7 linked regions of the Homo sapiens genome follow. The protein of the gene in region 1 interacts with the protein of each later gene in a pairwise test. Each region holds a gene or a part of one and is shown on either strand. Other genes may lie near its edges.

Evidence for each region.
Region 2: the proteins of PRPF18 (region 1) and DRC4 interact in binary tests that used the Homo sapiens proteins (3 or more experiments, as listed by UniProt).
Region 3: the proteins of PRPF18 (region 1) and CCDC150 interact in binary tests that used the Homo sapiens proteins (3 or more experiments, as listed by UniProt).
Region 4: the proteins of PRPF18 (region 1) and ZNF639 interact in binary tests that used the Homo sapiens proteins (3 or more experiments, as listed by UniProt).
Region 5: the proteins of PRPF18 (region 1) and TTC23 interact in binary tests that used the Homo sapiens proteins (3 or more experiments, as listed by UniProt).
Region 6: the proteins of PRPF18 (region 1) and GMCL1 interact in binary tests that used the Homo sapiens proteins (3 or more experiments, as listed by UniProt).
Region 7: the proteins of PRPF18 (region 1) and CCDC102B interact in binary tests that used the Homo sapiens proteins (3 or more experiments, as listed by UniProt).

Annotation. Positions count from the first base shown.
Region 1 is NC_000010.11:13,624,965-13,628,161, reverse strand, and holds part of PRPF18 (pre-mRNA-splicing factor 18), read right to left. Parts: intron 1-3,197.
Region 2 is NC_000016.10:90,036,180-90,039,679, reverse strand, and holds part of DRC4 (dynein regulatory complex subunit 4), read right to left. Parts: intron 3,300-3,500; coding exon 3,094-3,299; intron 2,449-3,093; coding exon 2,281-2,448; intron 1,919-2,280; coding exon 1,832-1,918; intron 1-1,831. UniProt on the Homo sapiens protein: Component of the nexin-dynein regulatory complex (N-DRC), a key regulator of ciliary/flagellar motility which maintains the alignment and integrity of the distal axoneme and regulates microtubule sliding in motile axonemes.
Region 3 is NC_000002.12:196,723,215-196,726,714, reverse strand, and holds part of CCDC150 (coiled-coil domain-containing protein 150), read right to left. Parts: intron 3,107-3,500; coding exon of another isoform or gene 3,103-3,106; exon of another isoform or gene 2,344-3,102; intron 743-2,343; coding exon 616-742; intron 1-615.
Region 4 is NC_000003.12:179,326,031-179,329,530, reverse strand, and holds part of ZNF639 (zinc finger protein 639), read right to left. Parts: intron 2,567-3,500; exon of another isoform or gene 2,187-2,566; intron 1,971-2,186; 5' UTR 1,900-1,970; intron 1,249-1,899; 5' UTR 1,238-1,248; coding exon 1,180-1,237; intron 1-1,179. UniProt on the Homo sapiens protein: Binds DNA and may function as a transcriptional repressor.
Region 5 is NC_000015.10:99,218,582-99,222,081, forward strand, and holds part of TTC23 (tetratricopeptide repeat protein 23), read right to left. Parts: intron 3,284-3,500; coding exon 3,160-3,283; intron 468-3,159; coding exon 317-467; intron 133-316; coding exon 7-132; intron 1-6. UniProt on the Homo sapiens protein: Participates positively in the ciliary Hedgehog (Hh) signaling.
Region 6 is NC_000002.12:69,843,160-69,846,659, reverse strand, and holds part of GMCL1 (germ cell-less protein-like 1), read right to left. Parts: coding exon 3,399-3,500; intron 2,530-3,398; coding exon 2,464-2,529; intron 2,076-2,463; exon of another isoform or gene 1,793-2,075; intron 1-1,792. UniProt on the Homo sapiens protein: Possible function in spermatogenesis. Enhances the degradation of MDM2 and increases the amount of p53 probably by modulating the nucleocytoplasmic transport.
Region 7 is NC_000018.10:68,895,580-68,899,079, reverse strand, and holds part of CCDC102B (coiled-coil domain-containing protein 102B), read right to left. Parts: intron 1,862-3,500; coding exon 1,652-1,861; intron 1-1,651. UniProt on the Homo sapiens protein: During interphase, forms fibers at the proximal ends of centrioles to maintain centrosome cohesion. During mitosis, dissociates from the centrosome following phosphorylation to allow centrosome separation. Contributes to CROCC/rootletin filament formation.

The sequences.
Region 1 (3,197 bases):
CACGTCATTCACTTGGCTCCTTTTTGTTGTTGTTGTTCCCTGTGTAATCAGGTATTTGCTTTGGGATAAAGACCATTCCATCACATAGTCCAGCTTATCCTGCTGTGAATTCTAATCATGTGTATGCAGAACTTTGATCGGTAGCCATGGAAATATAGATGATAGCACTAATTTGGCATCTTAAGGTTCCTGAAGGAATAGGTGAGAAGAGGGGCAAAGTCAGGCAAGAGAACACCCTGATGAAATACAAATAGCTTCACTCAGCAGCAGAGCATGGCAAGAATTGTTATGCGCAAGCGGAAGGCAAACTGATGGTTTGCCTTGGAGGTGGTTTTCCCCATGTCAGAAGAATTGGAATCTTAGGTGTGTGCTCCTTACAGAAGACGTGTGTGATGCCTATTTATACTCACTAAGCAGATTCTATGATTTAAAAACATATACTAGTGTTCTCCCTGAAATCTTAGCTGCCAAGGGTTGTGAAACTCAATTGTTTTAGTCATAAGTAGTTACCACAGAGCGGTATGATACATTTTTGTAAAAAAGATTTGAGAGTGCATGGCAGAGATAGGTGTGTAATCTCAGGACAGAATATCGTTATTTTCCAGATGGAAACAAATCTTTTCAATTAGACCCCTCAGGATTTCAGTTTCAAACTGCTTATGGATGCTTAAGCCAGTAAAACAATGAGCTGCTTAGCTTAGCTTATGGCAAATGGCTTAAAAACTTGTGGTATTTTTAATTGGCTTTTTATTTATATAAAGGCAATACCCTTATCTAACAAATGTTTATTCAGTGCCTACTATACATACTGTTCTAGGCTCTGGAAATACAGTAGCGAAGAAGCCAGAAAAAATCCCACCCTCCTGAGATCGAATTGTGGTAAGGGAAGACAGGCAAGAAACAAAATAAATTCATAAAAAAAAATTTTCAACGATGCTAAGTGCTTTGGAGAAAATAAAGCAGGCAAGTGGGGTAAGTGGACGTGTGGGGCAACCTGAAGGACTTTGGCTTGGACTCTGTGAACTAGGAAGCCCCTGCAGGGTTCTGAACAACAGAGCAACACGATCTGACTGTATGTGAACTGGATCAGTCTGGGGAATGCTGCTAAGAAACTGGAGAGGAGCAATAAGAGAAACTCAGGGACCAGAGAGAAGACACTGGAATAATTCAGATGAGAGGTGGTGGCTGGACCCAGTGGCAGCAAGGAAGGTGGTGAGAAGGGATCGGGCTCCAGACATACTTTGAATATAGAACCATCAAGCTTTGACATGGATAGGATATGGGTTGTGACAGGAAGAAAAAAGCCAAGGATAATTCCGGGTTTTCTGTGTACACTGTTTGAGGGGAAAAAAAAAAAATCACACGATTCTTGTATCAAATAATAGCAGTCCTCTACCTCACTCTTTCCAAATCCTAATTCCAGCTCTCCACAGGCAACCCTTTTCAAACGTTTTAAGTGTTTCCTCTGGCATTTATTGCCACATTTCTAAATACTATACTGACAGTGCTTGGTTTTTCCACCAGATATTAGTGATATCTCCTGACTTCCTACTATGAAGCAGAGGATATCTCACTCTTACACCACTGTCCACTGGCCCCACATATGCACGCACACGCCTCAAAAGCACTTTCTCCCACATCCTCCCCAAACCACATTTTTAGTGAAATCAATATTCAGGGTTTTCCTTATAAAGGCTACACAAATATCGTTCAAAGCAAACCCACATAACATATTATGATGATGACCTCTCATAAGTTTTTTTCCCCTTTTTGTTTTGTTTTTCTAATCCATTCTCCAACATGAGACTACCCTCACATGCCCAAACATCACTCAGGATCTGATCAGACATGCCAGGGAATATAAGCTCTTCCATTTCTTCCTGGAGTCCTTCAACCATCTACTCTAACCTGGACCCACTTGTACTGCTACCATCCTGGAGCATGACATCCCTGCAGCTCCAGCCTGGGGATTCCTCTCGCCTTGCTCTGTGGTGGATCTCAGCTCTTGGATCTTTTTCTTTGGATGGAGGACATCCTCAGGTAGAGTCAAGACTGCCCACATTCCAATCCCAATTCTACCACTGACTAGCCATGTGACCTTGAGAACTCACTTCTCTACGCCTCTTCCCCACTTACAAAACAGGGAAATGTGAGTGTCCATCTCATATTGTGGCTGTAAAGTACTGAAGGGAAGCACAGTAAGCACTACTTAAGTGTCAGCTATGACGATAATGACTACAGAGAATGTGTGCATGGGAGATGTCATTAGCCTATATTTACCCTTCACTTGATGGTTCAGAAAGGAAGAGAATTCTGAGTTGGACAATATTTCCCTAGCTATTGCAAAGGTACTGCTCTACTGTCTTCTACCTTCTAGTGCTATCAGTGAGAAGTATGACAGTATTTTAATTCCTGCACCTTTGTAAGCGACCTTTTCTCTGAAGTCTTTGAAATCTTCTCTTTAGCTTTGGCCTTCCAACATGCATTCTTTTGTGCCTTGATGTGAACTCTTCCTATTCATTTGCGCTGTATTAAGTGAATTCTTTTCATTCTACAAACTCACGTCCTTCAGGTCTGGGACGTTTTCTTACATTAATTCTTTATTTCCTATCTTCCCTTTTCTGTTGTAATGGCTATAAACGTTATAGATTGACTCTTATTTTCTTACCTTTCCTGCTTTTCATATTTCAACTTTATCTTCTAACCCACTAATGTAATTACTAAATTTTTGCTGATTTAAATTTTTGCTAATTTTTAAGAGTTCATTTTGATTCTCAAACTTTTTTATAGCCTAATGTTCTTATTTCATGGCTACAACGTTACCTAAGAATTTTTTTGTTTGTTTTGTTTTCAGACCCGTCTGTCACCCAGGCTGGAGTGCAGTGGCACGATCCTAGCTCACTGCAGCCTCAAACTCCTGGGCTCAAGCAATCCTCCTACCTCAGCCTCCTGAATAGGCATGCACCACCACGTCCAGCTAAATTTTTTATTTTTTGTAGAGAAGGGATCTATTTTGCCCAGGCTGGTCTAGAACTCCCGGTCTCAAGCACCCCTCCCACCTCAGCCTCCTAAAGTGGTGGGATTACAGGCATGAGCCACCACGCTTGGCCTCTAAGGATATTAATTATCATTCTCAATGAAATTTTTTTCTGTTCTCTATAATTCTGTTTCTATGAAGGTCTTTTTTTCTGTGTGTT
Region 2 (3,500 bases), on another chromosome or scaffold:
TGTGGTGGCTCACGCCTGTAATCCCAGCACTTTGGGAGGGTGAGGTGGGTGGATCGCCTGAGGTCAGGAGTTCGAGACCAGCCTGGCCAACAGAGTGAAACCCTGTCTCTATCAGAAATACCAAACATTAGCCGGGCGTGGTGGCAGGCGCCTGTAATCCCAGCTACTCGGGAGGCCGAGGCAGGAGTATCACTTGAACCCAGGAGGTGGAGGTTGCAGTGAGCCGAGATCGTGCCATTGTACTCCAGCCTGGGCAACAAGAGCGAAACTCCATCTCAAAAATAAATAAATAAATAAATAAATAAATAAATAAATAAATAACTGCCTTGGTCTCTAAATTTTGCTGATAAATTTGAGCTCTCGGTTCTCTAGGAAGAGACACCAGCTTGGACACTGTCAGGAACCACATTCAAATGGAAGAAAATGTGACAGAAAACAAGGCTCCAACCCAGGCACGTCTCTGCTGTCCTCTTCCCAATAATGTCCACCTCAAAACCCACAGGGAGAAGGAAGGGCCCCTTGTCTAACACAGCAGTCCTCAGGATCTCACTGACTACCTTGCAGGTGCCCTTCCCTTAGGTGCCAAGAGTTGGCACAGCCTAGCAATGCACGTCGTGCAGGACCTGAGGTGTCTCTGAAGGTGGGGCTAGATCTGACAGACAGATGGGATATTTCTGAGAAGCGAATCCCACTACAACGGTTTGTGTTCAAAAATTTCAATTAGGTTAGAGAACAAAACAGCACATATAACTGCGGCTCAAGATAAGATGCCCTGGCCCCGCACACCACAGACAAAGCCTTGAGGGGCCCATGCTGCAGGGATTGGTCCTTGGCCAGAACTTTGAAACTGAACAGAGGCAAGGAGCGTCTTTAAGGGACAGAGACAGGACCGAGCACCCCTACCACTCACTGCGAATCTTGGAAGTGCCCACGAAATGAGATGTTTTCCACCCAGTCACTTCTGCAAAGGTTTAAACCTGTCAGATCTGGTGCAGGTGAGGATGGAAACGGCCCCTCCGCACCCTGGCAGGTGTGTGACTCAGAGCAGCCCTCTGGACAGATGATCAGGGTCCTCAGAACAGAACCCTCAGACTCAACAATCCCACTGCTAGGAACTGGCTTTCCTAAGAAGCAATCTCACACAAGTGCACAAAGACAAATTTAAAAGGATTGAGGCAGCAATGCTTATAGCAGCAGAGCATTAGAAACAGACGGGAGTCGGCTAAATGATCAAACGTTCACAAAACGCAGCACCAAGCAGCTGTGAAAAGGATGAGACCGCTTCCTATGTGCAGCCTGATACACTGTGAGATTAAAAAGCAAATTGTGCTTATGGCCTGATCCCGTGTTCGTAACATACAAAGTCACATCCACACGAGAGCATGCAGGAAACCTGGAAGGGAGCCCATAAAACTCGCCAGTGTGAGGACCAGCACTGAGCAGCCGGAGACTCATCTTCACTTACACTTAAGAGCCTCCCTCATGTGCTTTCAGAGGTGAGCTCTCGAGGGGACGAAAGTCATGTGTGATCCGTTCCCCATCAAGACCCCAGGCCTTCTGCAGAATATGCATGCAGAACAGGCCACAGGTTTTTGCCTCTTAGAAGCTGCGGAATGAGTTACAGGGAACAGGGCCTCCAGCTTCAGAACCCAGAAACCTGGCCAAGGCATCTGAAGCTGGTCCAGGGGCCACAAGGAGAGCCCCGTCCCTGGCTAGCAGGGGTGCCATCCCCACTGCAGGGCCAGCCTAGTGCCCGCTCACCTTGGTGAACTTGGTGAACCGTTGCTCTAACACCCACCGCCAACTGCAGGGCCAGCGTGGTGCCACTCACCTTGGTGAATCGCTGCTCTAACACTTCATGCTCCCACTGCAGGTCTTTCAGCTCTTTCTCCCTGACTTTCAAACGGGCTTTTGTGCACTGGAGGAAAAACAGGGAGTAGGGGACAGAAAGTATTCAAGATTCACAGTCATCCAAGTAACACGGGCTCCTGGGAGATGGCAAGGCCAAAAATAATCGCCAGAAAGACCTGGTTCCAGGACACAAGCAGCTGAGTCTCACCAAGGCCGGCCGGTAGCACGTGGTGAAGATGAGGGCCTTGTCTCCAAAACACCCCCAGACTTTACTTTCCCCAGGAGAACACGAGGCAGAGAAAGGAGAAATGCAGGCCTCCCCGTCTCCCTTCCTGCCCTAAGGGCCAAGCCCCTCCCTGTGATGCTCCTCCCTCCTGAGCCTAGGCAAGCTCATGCCAAGGAGGGAGAGGAATCCAGCGGGAAACTCACAAGCAGGATCTGCTTGTCCCTCTCGTAGTTTGCGAGCTGTTTCTGCATCTCGCTCATCTCCTCCCGAGCCTTCTGGAGAGGGTCTGCCAGGCGCTTGTTCTGCCCAGACACCTCTGCCATCTCCCTCTCCAGGTGGTCCTCCTTCTTCCGCATGTCCTCCATCTGCTCCTGCAGGCACAAGCACAGGCCCGGCAGGGGCTCAGCAGGCAGAACCAAAGGGGCTGTGGCCTGCATGGTGAGAGCTGGGTGCTCTCCTGCCCATCACCAGCTGCTGCCAGCCTCAGGCATGCTGGCACCTAGACGTCTTCTATGTATAAACAGTATTTCTGCAGCTTCAACTTATTCTGAGTTTTCTGGGAATGCAGCTTCCATGCAGACTGAAGGACTATACTTTGTTCAAGATTCCACCAAGGGCCGTTGTCTACTGTAGAAAATCCTGTCACTGCCAGCATGCAGTGACGATGACACCTATCCACCTGTCGCAGGCAGTGACTATGACACCTATCCACTCCAGCCACATCACGGCCCTCACTGCGGTTCCATCTGAGCTTTTACAAACCAGAACACACTTCATTACTTCCCCCTCTGCACTACGGTGAGGGCAATATCCTGACTGCTTTTAACAATAGGTAGAGATAGGTTACGTTATTTAGGAATTTCAGTTAAGGATATGAGAGGGGCATTGTCAAACAATCTTATAAAAAGTACTGGGTGTGTTGGGGTGGAGAGCTGGGGTCTGGATCCCCAGGACTCTGCAGCCCACATTCTAGGACAGGCAGAGTGTGCCTCCCCAGCCCAGCCCACGCACAGCACCTTGAGGGAGTTGATGAGGGCCAGGTTGTTGAGGGTGATGTCGTTGTAGTAGTTCTTAATGTCGGTGAAGGCCTCCTCGTGGCGCTGCATCAGCGTGTGGATCTGGCCATTCTTCCTCTCCTCCACTTCGTGGAGCTCAGTCTTTCTCCGCAAGTCGAGTTCGTCCCTCAGCATCTTCATCTTCTTATCATACTTGGCCTCAATTTCTGAAAGGCAGCAGCAAACAGCAGCTTAGCAGAGGAAGACGTGGTGCCCCTACGGCTACAGAACATGGAGCCTGTAAACGGGCCCAAAACGCCCACTGTGGTCAGAACAGCCTTGCAGGCAAAAGCTCTGCAAGAGAAGAACAAAGGGGTTTAGACTGAGTTTTTCTGCTGATGCTCACACTCAGCACACACACCACTGTC
Region 3 (3,500 bases), on another chromosome or scaffold:
TGTGCTGTTTCATAAGGTGTCCAGCCCTGCCATTTCTGCTAGTCTCAATCCTGTACTCTCATTAAGCCTCTCTTCTTCTATCAACCAAATGGCCTAAAATAAACTTTCTCTTACTTTGAATTCCTTCAAAGTTGTACACAGCCTCTGCTACCCAAGAAAGTTCTCTGATGTTTTCCCTATATATCTCATTTCCGGAGTGGAGATCCCAAACAAGGGTCATTTGGCACACACTGGGGCATGGACCATATCTTCTACTGTTTTCTCTGTGCCTCTCAGGAAATGGTAGATGCAGAATAGATGCCAGTTAAATGAACTGAGAAGACAGATGATTTCTCTTCTGTCTATCAAATGGCAGTCTCCTTATTCCTCTATCCCTCTTGCTTATCACTCTCTGATGGAAAATCTCCCATCAAGGCACACCTTTGTCGGGCAGAGAATTATGTCAGAAACTTTTTTCTTGTGTGTTGCTTTACAGAGAGGTCTTAATTACATCTGGCCTGCTGATCAAAGGGGGATGAGAGGAGTCAAAGAACAACTGTAGCCATTCTCTGAAATCCTTGAGCTGCTTATCCTAAGAGGCATTCACCAAAAGAGAAACTTTTCTCATGACTATACCTCAGCCACTTCCCGTTGTGCCACTTTCTTTGTAGTTTCTCTCTCGGTTTGAAACTGCTTTCTTAGAGCTTCTATGCGTTCAGCATGCAATTCTGCTTCCACTTTGGACTCTTCAGTCATCCGGTCTCTGTTTTGAAGAAGAGAGGTGATAAGTCACCTTTAGAAATCATTTTAGGAGGTAAGAAAGTTTTGGAGGGGAGTGTGCAACTCTCCAAAAGGTGTGTGATTTATAAACAAGCAGCCTATCAGTAGCCTGGTGAACCTCACTAATTTGGAGCTCATTAACAGAAGAAAAAAGAAGTGAATTTACCTGTAGCATTAAAAAACATTAATTCTACATAAAGAGATCCAACCAAACGAGTAAAAAACTCACATCGAAGAAAAATACTGGAGGAAGAAGAAACACTTTAAGAGATACTTGCTTTTGTCTTTTCTTTTGCCTTTGTCTTTTCAAACAAAACATTATAGCAAAGTGATTAAGACTATGGGTTTTGGAGTCAGCCTGCTGCTGCCTGGATTGTAATCTCCGCTCTAGTAAGATGATGTCTTTTTGCTAGCAGCTATTTACTACTTAAGTTTTAACTTGTAATAATATTGTTTCCTTATCTTTAAACTGAGAGCCTTAAATTAGATCAGCATTCCTAACTTGAACTCCTTGTTCAAGACCCATGATTAATCTTCTGAGGATGCTGGAATTGCCTGAAATAATATGCAAAATGTGTGTGTGTGAGGGAGTGTAGCTGAGTCCGTAGCTTCTGACTTTTAAAAGGATAAGTGACTCCAAAAAGGACTAAACGGATTTAAACAATTACTAGGCTTATTCCAGCTTTAACATTCTCTGATCTAGCTGATAATGACTTACTGTATGATTACTCTTGAGTTATTGGTTCTTTCTCAAAGGATAGGAGAAGCCTGCCCTGCCATGAAATCACCTTCATTTTCCCTCTCTCTCCTCCTGACCATCTCTTGCTCTTATTTGTATAATATATCCATGTTCTCCACGTGTCTCTAAAAGCACATCTACTAATGGATTCAGTTTCTCCACTTGGCAGCATTCAGTGGCTTGGTCTATACATGAGACTTGCAGGTGGTAACTGCAACTGTCCCTCCAGTACCCCAGGCAGGAATGTATCAATATACTTTGGTACATCACATCTAAAAAGTTGCTGACACCTGTCCTCAAGGCACAGCATAAAGGGATGGAGATCCTGAAGTCATTGGATATAATTATGGTTATTTCTTATATTCCCACACTCCTCCCCATGCCCACACCTCAATCTGAAAAATGAGCAAAAAATTCATGGAGATATAGAAAGAGAAAACCATCATTTTTACAGTGCTGTATTTTGAAAATTATAAGAAACTTTCTAAATTGCCTTTAAATTTATTGTGATTATATCAAAATGATTAAGACTATAAGTTTTGGAGTCAGCCTGCTGCTGCCTGGATCTAATCCCAGCTCTAGTAAGATGATGTCTGACCTTGAGTATGGTACACCACCTTCCCCTGCTTGTTTCCTTATCTTCAAAATGGGAATAACAACAGTAACCACCATCATAGGGTAATAGTTTGTACTAAAGGAAATAATGCATGTGAAGTCCTTAGCATATTACCCAACATATCATGAGCATGTAACAAATGTTAGCTACTGTCATCATCATCATCTAGCTCTAAAAATTTAAATTCTAAATTTTAGATTTTTAAATTAAATTTTGTATTAACTTTAATTTTTAATTTTAAAATTTCTCTCAAGTCTCTACCTCTGCCCTGAGCCCCTACATAGCACTTCAACTTCAACTCTTACTTTCTTCTTCTTTTTACTGAGGTAAGAACATTTAACATGAGATCTACCCTCTTAACAAATTTTAAGCATACAATATACTGTTGTTCATTATAGCCCTATGTTATATAGCAGATCTCTAGAATGTATTCATCTTGCTCTTTTTTCTTCTAAGGAAAATCGCAGACCATCTACCAATCAGCCTCCTTAACAGTCTTCTGAAGACTCACTCAGCTTCTGCTTCCCGCTAGTCCCAAAGGAAGAAATGTCCAACCTCATCTTTAAAGATAACCCTTCCTCTTATACTCTCTCTTTTCTCCAGTTCGATTGAGTTCTTTTCCATAATCTTTAATCATGGTCCAGTTCCTCCCATTCTAAAAACAGGGCAGCAGCAGAATAACTTTTCTTCATGTTATGCTCTTGAGCTGCTATCTGATCTTCTTTATCTTCACCATTGTCCTCTTTGCCTGCCTTTCCTCATCAATCACTTACTCTTTGTGATCTTCTATATCTACAGAAACTGGCCATCTGGAGGATGATTGGTAGATACCTGTTGCAAAACCCAGTGGCTTCCTCTCTGGTCTCTTTGACTCTGCAGCATCTGACTCACTTGTGTTTGACTCTGGTGATACTACATTCTACCAACTCTTTCCTTACCTCCACTAAATGCTCCTTCTCTGGATCCTTCTGTGGCCTCTGTTCAACTTCTACCTGAAATGCAACACATCTCCAAGTTCTGACCTTGGTTCTCTCTCTATACTTTTCCCATGGCAGTCTAACCCACACCAAAGCTTTAGCGTTTATCTTTTTATTTTTTTGAGATGGAGTCTTGCTCTGTCACCCAGGCTGGAGTGCAGTGGCCTGATCTCACTGCAACCTCACTGCAACCTCTGCCTCCCAGGTTCAAGCGATTCTCCTGCCTTAGCCTCCCGAGTAGCTGGGACTACAGGCATACACCACCACACCCAGGTATGTATTTTTAGTAGAGATGGGGTTTCACCATGTTGGCCAGGATGGTCTCGATCTCCTGACCTCGTGATCCGCCCACCTTGGCCTCCCAAAGTACTGGGATTACAGGTGTGAGCCACCGCACCCGGCGTTTAGC
Region 4 (3,500 bases), on another chromosome or scaffold:
TTAATGTTAATTATAGTATCTGTAATGAAAATATTATACATTTTCAACTTTTAAAGCTTTTATATTTCAGATCCAATATTGACATAGGACTTTGAAAGAACCACAAATTACATACTCTAAAACATAACAACTTTGAAATATACAAGGATACATTTGTTTTATACTCAGAATCACACAAAATAAAAATATATGATAAACACTGTATTAACTGCACAAAACAGTGAAATAAACACCAGGAAGGTGTGCCATGTCATGCAGAGAAAGGTTGTTACATAGGGGAAATGGTAAGGACCACTTAGGGCTTCTGAATATAGTCATTTCAAGTGTTGTCTAGGAAGGGCCAGTAAGCAGTATACTAGGGTTAATTTCTTCAGATATGAAGAATGTGTAGGCTGGGTAGACTAATAGGTAAGACTGAGATGGTCCCAAGTAAATGTATGCGAGGTGTATTAGAGATGGCCACAAAGACCCCTTTTCTTATACTGCCAACACAGCAGAGCCAACCTCAATGAAAGGATCTAAAATTACACAGTCATCCAGCCTGGGCAGCATGGTGAAACCCCATCTCTACTTTAACACTACAAAAAATTAGCCAGGTGTGGCGGTACACGCCTGTAATCCCAGCTACTTGGGAGGCTGAGGCAGGAGAATCACTTGAACCCAGAAAGCAGAGGTTGCAGTGAGCTGACATCACACCATGGCACTCCAGCCTGGGCTAGAGAGTGAGACTCTGTCTCAAAAAAAAAAAAAAAAAAATTACACATTCAGCATGAAAGTTTACATTTCCTAAAGTAATAAAGAGGATAAAGTCTTTTTTCCCCAATAATGTAAAATATTTTCTACCAAGGTTGTCATTATTGGGTCTTAAGCACAGCTTAGGTATCAGACATGCAAATCCCAATTATGTTATATAAGTAAATAACCTTGGCTATCTAATTTTAAATATTTATAACCCATAGAGCTGTGAGGAATAATATAATGTCTGTAAAGTTCTTATGTGTGCCTAGCACATGGTAGACAATAAGGAATATATATTCAGATAATGTATTTAAACCGTTGTTTTACCTAAATATTGACCCAGATATTTAAGTCTTATCTGATCACTTAGGAGAAAATGGATGAGAATATAATTTTGTGGGAATTAATCCATACCCAACTTTAAAATAATTATACACTGACCTGAATAACGAGAAGGGTGTAGAGTCTTCCTTTTTCTTTTTTTAGGATACTCATTCATATCTTTTCAATCTAAAAAACGAGAAAAAATTAACAAATATGTCACAAATAACAACTGTTAATGACGTTATAAAAATTCTAACTGAAGAATTTATTGGCAATATGAAATATGTGAGCCACCTGAAAATCTATGGTATAAGAAAAGTGTTAAATGATGCCTCTGTTTGTATTTCAGATTGTTTTCCAGTCAGGTTTCAAGGCAGAAACTGATTTCTGTTTTCTTTCTTACGGAGGTTAAAAAATTCTTTTTCAAATGTTGATATAAATTGTGAGAACTGGATAATTACAATAAACCACATGTTTAAGTCATTTTATTTTGTGTATATATAAAAAAAGAAACACTGTGCCTATGGCACCATACTAGGAGTTTTATAGGCACATTTCCTACCATTGGAAGTATTTTTAGGTAGTTTTCAAGCTAAAGGCGGAGACATTTCCTTTAAAAAAATATTGTCACAAATATGTATCGGCCTCCTGGCTTCCAGAAAAAAGTACTCATCACACAGATCAGAATATAAATAATTTTCAAGAAAAAAATCATTTTCCTATTTATGAGGTCACATTCAACGTTCCACTGAGAACACAACACATGCAGCAACCACTATCCAATTAAATTCTCATTAACTGTTACAAAATTAATTAGTTTCAATACAGTCCACTTACTTGGTATAATTCTTACTACTGGAGTGAGGAAAAATGAATTACAATAAGTTTCTGTAGACAGTAAAAAATGCCTGTAAGTAAAACATGAAAGAAGTTATTAAGCAAAAATACAGCTCATTTCTGGTACTGAATAATACAATGGCACCAGATCTTTAATCAATTGGAAAGTTATACAGAACTAATTAAGATATATTATTTTGAAAACAATGTACTACATACTAAAAACTGTATATCTTGATAAATATGTGATTATATGCAAATTTCCACATTTCTTTGAAATGATTTACCTTCTATAGTTCTTTTTTTTTGAGACAGTCTCATGCCTGACCTATAGTTAAATCTTTTGACACCAAAATAGGACTATGAATCTGAATTAATTTATTCATCCATAAGGAAAGCAAGCATAATGAAAGCAAACCAAATTATAAACTTTTTGTTTTTGAGACCGAGTTTTGCTCTTGTTACCCAGGCTGGAGTGCAATGGCGCGATCTCAGCTCACTGCAACCTCTGCCTCCTGGGTTAAAGCGATTCTCCTGCCTCAGCCTCCCAAGTAGCTGGGATTACAGGCATGTGGCACCACACCGGGCTAATTTTTCTATTTTTAGCAGAGACGGGGTTTCACCATGTTGGCCAGGCTGGTCTCAAACTCCTGACCTCAGGTGATCCACCCACCTGGGCCTCCCAAAGTGCTGGGATTACAGGCGTGAGTCACCTTGCCTGGCCCAAATTATAAACTTTAAACTGTTACAGCCCTTATAGATTATTTATTTAAGAAATAAAAGATCGAGACCAGCCTGGCCAATATGGTGAAATCCCGTCTCTGCTAAAAATACAAAAATCAGCCGGGTGTGATGGTGCGCACCTGCAATCCCAGTTACTCAAGAGGCTGAGGCAGGAGAATGGCTTGAACCTGGGAGGCGGAGGGCTACAGTGAGCTGACATCGTGCCACTGCACTCCAGCCTGGGCAACAGAGCAAGACTCTCTCTCAAAAACAAAAAATCAAAACAAAACAAAAAAAGAAAAAAGTAAAAGTGATAATAATAATTTACTGACCACCAATTATGTACCAGGCTGTGAACATACTTTATCTCATTTAATCCTATGTAATCGTATGAGATGCAAAATTCACATCACCCTCTCAAAATTATAGTTCCTGTTATTGAGGAAACTGAGGCACAGTAAAGTCAAAGCTAGATACTCAGTAAATGCTGGGGTTGGGATTTGAATAAAGGTTTACCCAACTTTATTTATTAATCTATTTATTTATTTGAAACGGAGTCTTGCTCTGTCACCCAGGCTGGAGTGCAGTGGCACGATCTTGGCTCATTGCAACCTCTGCCTCCCCAGCTCAAGCGATTCTCCTGCTTCAGCCTCCTGAGTGGCCGGGATTACGGGCGCCCGCCAGCAGGAGGCTGGGATTACAGGTACCCGCCAGCACACCCAGCTAATTTTTGTATTTTTAGTAGAGACGGGGGTTTACTATGTTAGCCAGGCTGGTCTTGAACTCCTGACCTCAAGTGATCCGCCCACCTCAGCCTCCCAAAGTGCTGGGATTACAGGCACGAGGCACCGCGCCCGGCCTATAATGCTCTTAACACC
Region 5 (3,500 bases), on another chromosome or scaffold:
ACTTACTGTGCAAATGATAATCTGATCCGTGCTTCAATTTCTATCCATTCTTCCTTTATAATTCTTCCACATTGTAGCAGCTCCTTTGAAAGTCTCTCTGCTTTTGTCAAATTCTCTGCAGCTTCCTTAAATCTGAATTGTGTTCAGGAAATTTTCCACTTGGTTCTAGATTCTACACCCCATGTCCTGAACTTCCTTGGCTCCCATACTTCCAATCACACTTCCTAAGTCATCCATCAGCATCAGCTTTTTACTTGGCGTGTAAGTGTTACGTGAATAGTATTTCTATTTGTAAAAGTTAGAGGCAAAAGGATACTTTTGAAGGGAGAGTAAAGCTCTGCCCATGGTATGGAAAAGCTCAATGGAAAACTTGAAAACATCTGTATTCTCACTATAGGGAGGCACAATGGAGTTGGCGAGGATTTGTCTGGCTTTTTCTGCATGTTGTTTTGCTTGCAGTGACAGTCCTGTGGACAAAGAAAAAGAGGTCTCAGTTTCTCTATCATCTCAACTGGACAGGAATACAGTTCCTTATGGTCTGGGAATCTAACAAGGTCTCCTTCACATATTGTCAAATGACACATGGAGACGTATCTGGGCAGCATGAAACACTGCCATGACTGTAACAACCAAAGAAGTGTTTTATACCAAGTACCCAAGATAAATTTTCCCCCAAATGGCCTTTTTAGAAATAAACAAAATGAGCTGGAATTGAACAGCTTTGAAACCTCACCAATAGCAGAAGCAAAATATGTTACATATAATTATAAGAAACAAACTGAATACAAGAACTATAGCATTCTGAGCAGGAAATAAAATATTCATGAATTTTAATCCTGGCTGTGTAACTGCAATCTTAATGAAATACTAAAAATTCTGAATCTTCAGCTCACCCACCTATAATCATAATGTCAGAGAGTTATTTTTTTAACATAATACATATCTGATATCTACAAAAACTTACAAACACAATTCCAGTGAGGTAACAGATTAATGTGTGACAATTTCATCTTCCTATGTGGTAAGAGACTAATATGAAACAAAGTGGAGCAAAAAAAAATCACTACTAAGAAAGAATTCCCCAGTGTGTTCCAGTGTTCCTCCACGGGCTTGTTAATCTGTGGGAAGGGAGGACTGAGATCGCTAGCACGGCTTCAGGGCTTTGCACGTCCCTGTATTCCCATCCTCCTCCCCTACACCGACAACCACTTCCACTCACATACACACAGCCCCCATCTTATGTTCTTAGTTACACAAAATTGTATCTTAGATCTCTAAAAAAATCTGTCAAAATATGAAGTTAATTCTGTTCCTATGTCTATAAAACAGGAAGAATATATTTTCTAATGGAGAAAATCAAGGGTATGTGTTTCATGTGGGAATTCTTACACAAGATTGTCTTATTACATATTTTTAAAAAGCACAGACATGTATTAGTGCCACCTGTGCTTGTGATGTTACACAAAGCATGTTGGACTGTATTTTCAACTGTGTCGAGTCCCTGAAGGAACCTGAACTCAATTTACTGGAGGCAGCATAGGGTGAAGTTCAAGAACATTGGCTCTGAAGTCAGACTGCCCAGGATGGATCCCCTGCTCCACCACTTATTATAAAACGTTGGCCTCAGCTTTCTCAGCTGTAAACAGGGATATTAAAAATACCCACCTTTGAGGACTGTGGTGAGGACTGAATAAGGTTATGCATGGAAAACAACATGCCTGGCACCAAATGAGACTTTAATAAATGGTAGATACTACTTTTACTTTAAATTGAGAAAGAAGGACTGTCACGCAGAGAGGCAGCAGGCTGTATAAGAAAAGCATCGTCTGAAACCCCAGATGGCAGGACAAACTGGCATTGAAAACCTAGGTCTGAGTCTCAGATCAGCTACTTATTAACAGTGTGGTATGGGGAAAGCTGTTCTAACTCAGACTCATTGTTTTCCCTGAATCTACAAAATGGGGTGGGAGGGCAGAGTTTAAATTAGATAATCTCCAAGGTCCCTAAGAGCCTTTGATCTAATAGGTAGGACCAGTCTATAATCAGATTTGGCCAAATTTATTGGGTGGCAATAATGAATACGCTTGGTATAGAATATGCTTGGCATTTGGTGTTTTCCACTTCTATTATTTTCTTTATTCACTGGGCCAACCCTGGAAAGTTAGCATCACCATTACCATCATCATCACTTTTCAGCTGAAGAAGCTGAGCACAGAGATGCTCTTGTCCATCTTGTCTTAGGCTGCACAGTCAGTAAGTAGAAGCCATCATCATATCCTGGGTGTCTATTGTTTTTGCCTCCCCTGCACGCATTCTCCCCTCTGTTTCCCTTTTGGGATGCCTGGCTCCTGCACATCCAATCCATGAGATGTGGCGAAGGCCTGCTTCTCCTTCAGGATCCAATGAAGCCAAAAGAAAGGTTTAGCCAATCAGACTATTCCTTGCCTTTGGTATACAACCCAAGTTGTTCCAATTAGAACCCTTCCCAAATCCCGGGATTTTGGTGGAGGGACATTCTTTTCCTCCTGGGAATGCTTATAAGGGAAGTCTAAAGTTGCAGGCAGTCTTGTTGCCACCATGTGGGCAAAACCTGGCAAAGAATGGAGCAAATACCAAGAAAAACAGAGCCAAGCAGTGGGAGAGAGAAAAATTGAATCCTGGTCACATTGTTTGAACACTGGATATGGCTAAGTCTAAAAATTTTTTCCCTTGAATTTTTAAGTTGTATGAGCCAAAAACTTTTGTTTATGCCAATTTGGGTTAGTCTTTTTAAATTTTTTGGTTATTTACAGTCAAGAGATTCTCCAATAAAAGTGTGAATGGATCCCATTCTGGGCCCCTATTCCATACCTTGGGTTTTTTCCTACAAAGTCTTCTGGCCCAACAGATTAATTTTCTCCTAAGAACCTTACTTTTGAAATCATAAAAACAAAAACAAAAACAAAAAAACCAGAAAAGTTAAAATATTTTTTCCATTTTTCCCCTTTGAATGTTTACAGGTTATATACCTTATCAACTCTTTCTAAAAAGAAATGGCTTCTTGGTATTTAGAAAGGAGAATATTAAAAAACCTGATCCTTCTAATTAAGTGTGAATCAAATTTTGGGGAGAACAGCAGAAATCGACCAACTGATCCCCCTCAGTCTAAGGCGAGCTTACCTTTCAGCTGGAGGTAGCCTTGAGCCAGATTAACATGTGCCTCTGCTAGTTTCCAATGTGAGTCTCCATAGCAAATTCTTGTCAGTGCTACGCAACGCACAAGCTCATGGACGGCCTGTTTGTACTGTTAGGAAGAGAAAACAGGCTTACCAGTTATACAACTTAAGAGTCACAAAACACAAAATCAATGCGCTTTTATATCCCTTTGATAAATACTGAGTGACTACTATGTGCAAAACATTGTTCTAAGCACTTGAGATGTATCAGAGAACAAAACAGACAAAGATCTATTTGGGGTGGTAGCATGTACATCTGGTAAGATGAAACAGACAATAAACATA
Region 6 (3,500 bases), on another chromosome or scaffold:
CCTTTGTTCTTTCTTTCCTTTGAGCCATAAAAAGCCAAGAGAGCACGTGGGTTTTTAAGAGGATCCTGCTCCTTTTTCAAAAAGTTCAGTGAGAAATTAGAGTCATCCCCCTGTATCTGTGGGGGATTGGTTTCAGAACCTCCTACAAATACCAAAATCCTCTATGCTCAAGTCCCTTATATAAAATGGCATAGTATTTGCATGTAACCTATGCACATCCTCTCATATACTTTAAATCATCTCTAGGTGTTCTTACAGTACCTAATACAATGTAAATGTTATGCAATAGTTGTCATACTACATTGGGTTTTTTTGTTATTATTTTTTATAGTTTTTCCCCCAAATCTTTTCAATCGGCAGTTGGTAGAATCCACAAATGGAGAACCCATGGATAAGCAGGGTTGACTGTATTAAAGTGTTTCTAACGATTTTCAAATCAAACATTCTACGGTGATTTATTTATGCCTTGACATCACCAGGTGATGAAAGTCTCTCACACTTCTCTACCAAATTATCTCGTAAAGGCAAAAGAAAGGAAAAAAACCCCATAATCTAGGAGGTGGTCTAACCATAAAAAGTAACATTTCTATAAATTGTATCTTGAGAGTTCAAGGAAATTTGAATTCCCTCTATTCCATAATGTATTTAAACATAAAAATATTTACCTCTTCCCCACCTCCTCCCCACCAAAAAAAAAAAAAAAATCAGTAAAATTCACATTCTGGGAAGCTATGTAATGTTTGACTTTGGTTTTGTACATTTCCATCAGAATGTCACATACTCTCGGACACATTTGTATCCTTGTCTCAGAAGCACTGCTGTCAGGGAAATGCAAGCCAGAAAATGACTGTAATGCCAACCAGCCTTCAAAAGTTAACTGCTAGCCAGATTTTCTCAGACCCATCACAAATATCTTAGTCCCATTACTACAAATAAGCTCTTTGACAGCAAGAGACCATGACAAAATCATCTCTGCATTCTTCACAGCCCCTAATAGAGTATCTTTACATATAAAGGACAGTCAGGAAGTACTTGCTGCAGGAATAAATGGATAATATGCGTACTTAATCCAAAAAGCCAAACTAAGCTGGGTGCAGTGGTATGTGCCTATAATCCCTGCTACTTGGAGGCTGAGGCAGGAGGACTGCTTGAGCTCAGGAGTTTGAGTCTAGCCTGGGCAACATACCAAGGCCCCCATCTCTTTAAAAAAGAAAGGCTGCTCTGCAGCTTGGGTGGTGGGCAGGGTGGGCAGTCCTCATTGTCACCGCCATATTTCTTGTAGGTTTTTAGAACCCTGGAATCCATTTCTCACGGGTGACTGCGGTCCTATTATTCCAGCTTGGACTACATAGTCCACAGGTGATGGAGAAATCTTGGACCTCTGGCTCCATCTCCAGGACCTCTGGCTCTGCGCTGTGCTGCGTCTGACCAGGTCCCGCTTGAGGACGAAGGCGGCGCAGTTGACTGCAGGAGCCTCTGCAGCCCCAGCCTGAAGCCTGCATGGGACCCTGTGTGGCGCTAACAGGTTTTTTTTAAAGGAAGATTGATATTTTCTCAAAGAGAGGGGATGTCACTATGTTGCCCAGGATGATCTCGAACTCCTAGATTCAAGCAATCCTCCCACCTTGGCCTCCCAAAGTGCTGGGATTATAGGTCTAGGTTTTCCCAAATCGCTTTTCTGGTAGAGAAACCCTGAGGACTGATTGGCTTTTGCTTGTCTAAAACCATGGCCTGTGAATTTGTAACATTCAGGGACATGGCCACAGACTTCTCTCATCAGGAGTGGGAATACCTTGACCTGGTTCAGAAGACCTTGTACCAGGAGGTGACGGTGAAGAACCATGGTAACTTGTCTCACTCTCACTGAGGCTGGAGAGCAGTGTCGCAATCACAGCTCACTGCAACCTTGACCTCTATGGCTTAAGCAATCCTCCTGCCTCAGCCTCCAGAGTAGCTGGGACTACAGATTTGGATTCAAGGTGTGAAATAATCAGAGATGGAAAAATATACATTTATAGGAGACACACATTTGTTACTCCACATCAGAGAATTCATCCTAGTGAGAAAACGGATCAACATGAAAAGTTTTTGAAGGTAAAAAAAAAAAAAAAAAAAGGCCAAAACAGTTTCTTCAAACTTATTTCTCAATAAAAAAGATGATTTTTAAAATATAACTTTTAAATTCTCTAACAGCCTGGCAAAACCTGAAACTTTTCTATAGTCTTATAACAGTAATGCATTTTTCGGTTAAAACAGTAGACATAATATCCATTATATTATTCACAACAAAGAAATAAGTTTGCACAGCATTTCTTCAGTTTATGGATGTAGTCAAGCCCTTTCATTAAATTGTTTGCTTTTTCATAATATATTTTTGTGTTCTACAAAAATGTTATGTACTTTAACAAATGATAAACAATATTTTAGGATGACTAATTATGAAGTTACTTGAAATTCAAATACCTGAGTTCTTTAAAAAGTTCAACATTCTGGTGAGTCATCAAATTGTTTAGAAGCCATTCAAGGCACCTGAAATTAAAATATATAATTATTACATTATATGCCATGTATTTACAATTTATTAAGTAGGACTTATAGTTAAAATAAAATCAGATTAATCTTGCCAGAACATGCTCAAAACTTTTAGCTTAACAATAGGAAATTTAGTATTATTTTTGTCAGTGGATATTATTAAGAGAATATTTCCTTTATATTAACGAGAGCATTTCCAGTTTTAAAACTTCATTTTGAGTTTGTGTTAAATAGTTTATTAAGGGGTCTGCATACTAGTATAACCTTCTTTAAAATCTCAAAACAGGTACTGCAACTCTCAAGAGTTAGAAGGACTGTCAGTCTATCAGGCCTACTTCTTAAACAATTTTAATAGAAAATATACTATAAAGTGCAGTGGCATGATCACGGCTCATTGCAGTCTTGAACCTCCTGGGCTCAAAGAATCCTCTGACCTCAGCCTCCAGAATAGTGGGGACCACAGGTGCATGCCACCATGCCTGGCTAATTTTTAAAATTTTTTGTAGAGATGGGGTCTCCCTACATTGCTCAGGCTGGTCTTAATCTCCTGGGCCCAAGTGATCTTTCTGCCTTGGCCTCCCAAACCACTGGGATTACAGGTGTTAGCCACCACACCCGACCAAGGTGACCATGGTTTTTATAAGCATGTATATAACCCACCTATGGTCACTTACAAAGACGACACTTTTGAGGAATTTACTAATTAGTCCAAAAGTTAAAAGGGGCTTTTTATTTAATAAAATTCCATCCCCCTATCCTATTTTTCCTTAATTCTTTCTTTCTTATAGCTATACATTCTCTTAAGAAACTAAAGCAACCAAATTCCTAAAAGTGGGATAGGAAGAAAAACAAGAAAGGCAACTCACTTTTTCTTTACAGAATCTAATCCATAGGTCCCTGCTGATGTGTAATAGCCACATACAGTTTTCACATTAACTGTTTCCTTCATTGTCTCACCACACTGCTGT
Region 7 (3,500 bases), on another chromosome or scaffold:
CAGTCTTCTAAGTGATCAGCATACCCACTGACTTAGACCTTTGAGGATCCTCTCAGTTTCCAAGTTCTGCTTAGTCCCAGCCCAAATAACTACATTGTCAAAGAGACCAGGTCTGGACTCGGTGTGCCCTGATGACAGGTTACGCCAATGCCAGCTCCAAACAGGTCTCAATTTTTCCCGAAAGATATACTTTATATTAATACATTTTGATACAACTAGAAAGGTGCCAAAATCAAATATAATCAATTGCTTCTTAATCTGTGTCCCCTTCCACTTTATTCTTAGCAATCACTATAATGTTTTATTTATAAAAATTTGTGTGTTTGACTCCCTATATAGACTCTAAGCCCATGCTGGGTGGGGATAATGATTCATTGATTAATATTCTCATTACCTGCATATAGAACAGTGACTGACACAGAGAATAATACGAATAAATGTTTGTCTTGTTTGAATAAATCAAATAAAAAGTATTTCTATAATCAAACCACAGTCCATAATTGAGATAATTCTGCACTTTTTAGAGTAGAGATCTCCAAAATAAGATGTCTACAGATTTATCAGTGTACATATGTCAGAATCAAATACATTATTATGGATAGTTTATGAATCAATATAATAGAAAATTATGGTCACGGACTATAACATTTAACTTTAGATATTTGCATTGCTAGGTCATGAAACACTAATACAATTTAATCTTGCATTTGCAATAAATCCCTAGATTCATGAAAGAATGATGAAATAATATGGAATTCAATTTTTCTGGCCATTTAGGTTTTAGAGCTTATGTGAGTATGAATGACTTAAATATCTCAAAACTATGAACTTATCAAATTCACCTTTTAAAACTGTTAAAGAAACTGAGTGAGAAATAGAATTGTGCATTAAGATGCTATATATAATTGAAAAATAGAAACAAGGTAAATATAATTTACAGCACATTGACACGAACCCACATTAAAACTATAAGACTGCCATTAAAAGCACATTTAAAAATCTGTAAACTATCAAAAAAATGTCCGTCTATAGCATAAACTATATCTACTGGCTTGGGGATAAAACACATCCAAAATTAAATTTCCCAAATTTAAATTCTGAATGTTATCCTGGTTTTAAGATTTATACCACAGGCTGGAAAAATTATTTGAAAAATTATGCATTTCATTAGCTCAAAAATAATCGTTCTGAAACTGACAAAAAAGAACCAGAAAGCAGTGAGTTTCAGCTAAATTTAAATGTTTATGCAGATACTTACCATAGCTACCAGCAAATGCTTATTGTATAGTCGCTTGAATTAATGAAAAAATCTTTATTGGAAATAAGATCATTAGCTTAGAAAATACTGAGACAAAGCTTTAATAAGAAACAAAAAACCAGAAAGTTCTATTTCTTACTTCATTTTTCTTCTTCCTTTTGGAAATCTTGAAACTGTCTGAAGATTTGTCATATTTTAACATTTGACACACTTTGTTTCAGATGCATGAACGTTATTTTACATCCTAGTGGGCAAAAGAGCAAGGAGTATCAGGTATTAGCTGGCACAAAAGGAAATATCCAAATGTGGAGGCGTGTACGAGTGAAGACAGACTCTGCGTAGGCATCAGAGTGAGATTAGACAGTGAGAATTTGCTCCAAGGAGCACCCATACCTGGTTTTTTTCTTGCAGATCAATTTGTGACATCTTGAAATCAGGACTTTGAGAGTTTGCACTTAATCTATTTTTCTTATCCAAAAGCTCTTCCATTTCTTTCACCTGGATCTTCAGCCTTCTATTTTCTCTCTCCAGTCCCTGCTTTTCTCTTTCAAGTATTTCCCTCTTGTCCCACTCCGAGGTATTTTCAGCTTGCAATCTCTCTAGCTACACACAGAAAACACAAAGAAGCAGCATGCAGCATTTGCAATTGCCAAAAGATAATGCCACCCACAACCAGACTCCCATTAAGAAAAGTTCATGGATATGTCCACTGATACAATTTTAAAAAGAAAATTCTATTTGTTTGAAAACATGAGAAAAATACAAAAATCCTAAGATCAGGCCAAACCGTAGATAAATATACTTTTCCTCTTGGTTCATGTAACTATCTCTACAGCCATATGTACCATATTTTTCAAATATATGTGTCAAGTGAAGAACTGCTGCTCTTGGGAACATTAATCTCCACTCTCAACTGATAAACATTCTCAGTGGAGAAGACACAATATCATTTCATGGGCAATTTTGATTGGATATATTTCATTTATTCATTCACTCAATTATCTAGGGAATAGACAGATGCTATATGGATCTCTCTATCTCTATCTCTCTATCTCTCTATCTATGCAACATTTGCAGTTGCCAAAAAGTAATGCAAAAAGTAATTTAATTTTATATTGAAAAAATATATATAATTTATCATTTTATATTTTAAAATTTTACATTAAAACATTTTCAACATTAAATTATATAAAATTCAAACTATACCACAAATAAAATCGTATTGGGACATGGCCACGCTCATTTCTTCACACTTTGCCTATAACTGCCTTCACACACAATGGGTAAGTTAAGCTGTTGAGAGAGAGACCATATAGGTAGTAAAGCCCAAAATAGTTACTTTGTGGTCCTTTACACTAAAGTTTTGTCAACCTCTGCCCTCTTCCCATGGTTCTCAACCAAGGCTGCATGGTATATCAACATGAGGAGATTTTTATTACTATCAATGACCAGAAGCCTACTCTAGAAATTCTGATTTAAGATAATTTTAATATCTCCTTTGGTTTTTGTTATTTTAATGTCTTTAAGTTTTAAAGAGGCAATATCAAATGTATTTATTTTCTGCAGTTTTATTACATCTAAGTGCTTATTATTATGAGATGAAATTATATTCGTCTGCTATAATTTTTCTGTGGACATTGTAAGTAGAAGTGAATAGTAGCTTTTTTGTCTCTAAATTATAGTCCTGAGCTATGCATTCTAATGTGACTTCACCATTTATTCTCTGGATAAGCTTAGTCAGGTAACTTCATCTACCCCAATGTAGACAACTTATTTAATCTGACAAGGTTTGTGAGAAGTGAAATTAATCAAAGTAATTAGAAAGCACTTTGTCTAGCAATGTAACACTTAAAGGAGAAACACTGTGGTAATATAAATTTTTTAAATGTATGTTTCTCTCATATATTTAGGCATATGGATATCGAGACATCAATGTAATTTATTGCATAAATCTATACAGCAGAGTAACTCTTTACAGTAGAAAATCTATTAGAATCTCATCCTGGTCCCACCATTTACTCATTGTCTAATTCTGGACAAGAAATTTATTATCTTATTAAGTTTTCTTACTAGTAAAATTAGTATGATACCATACATATAATACCATAAATACAATAGCACAAATACCATATTTGTGGTATTGTAGGGACAGAAGAGGGTCAACTACTCAAAATTCCTTGCAAACTATTTAGGATGATTAGAGTATGAGGCATTTTAAAAATATCTCAAAAGGATAAAAATT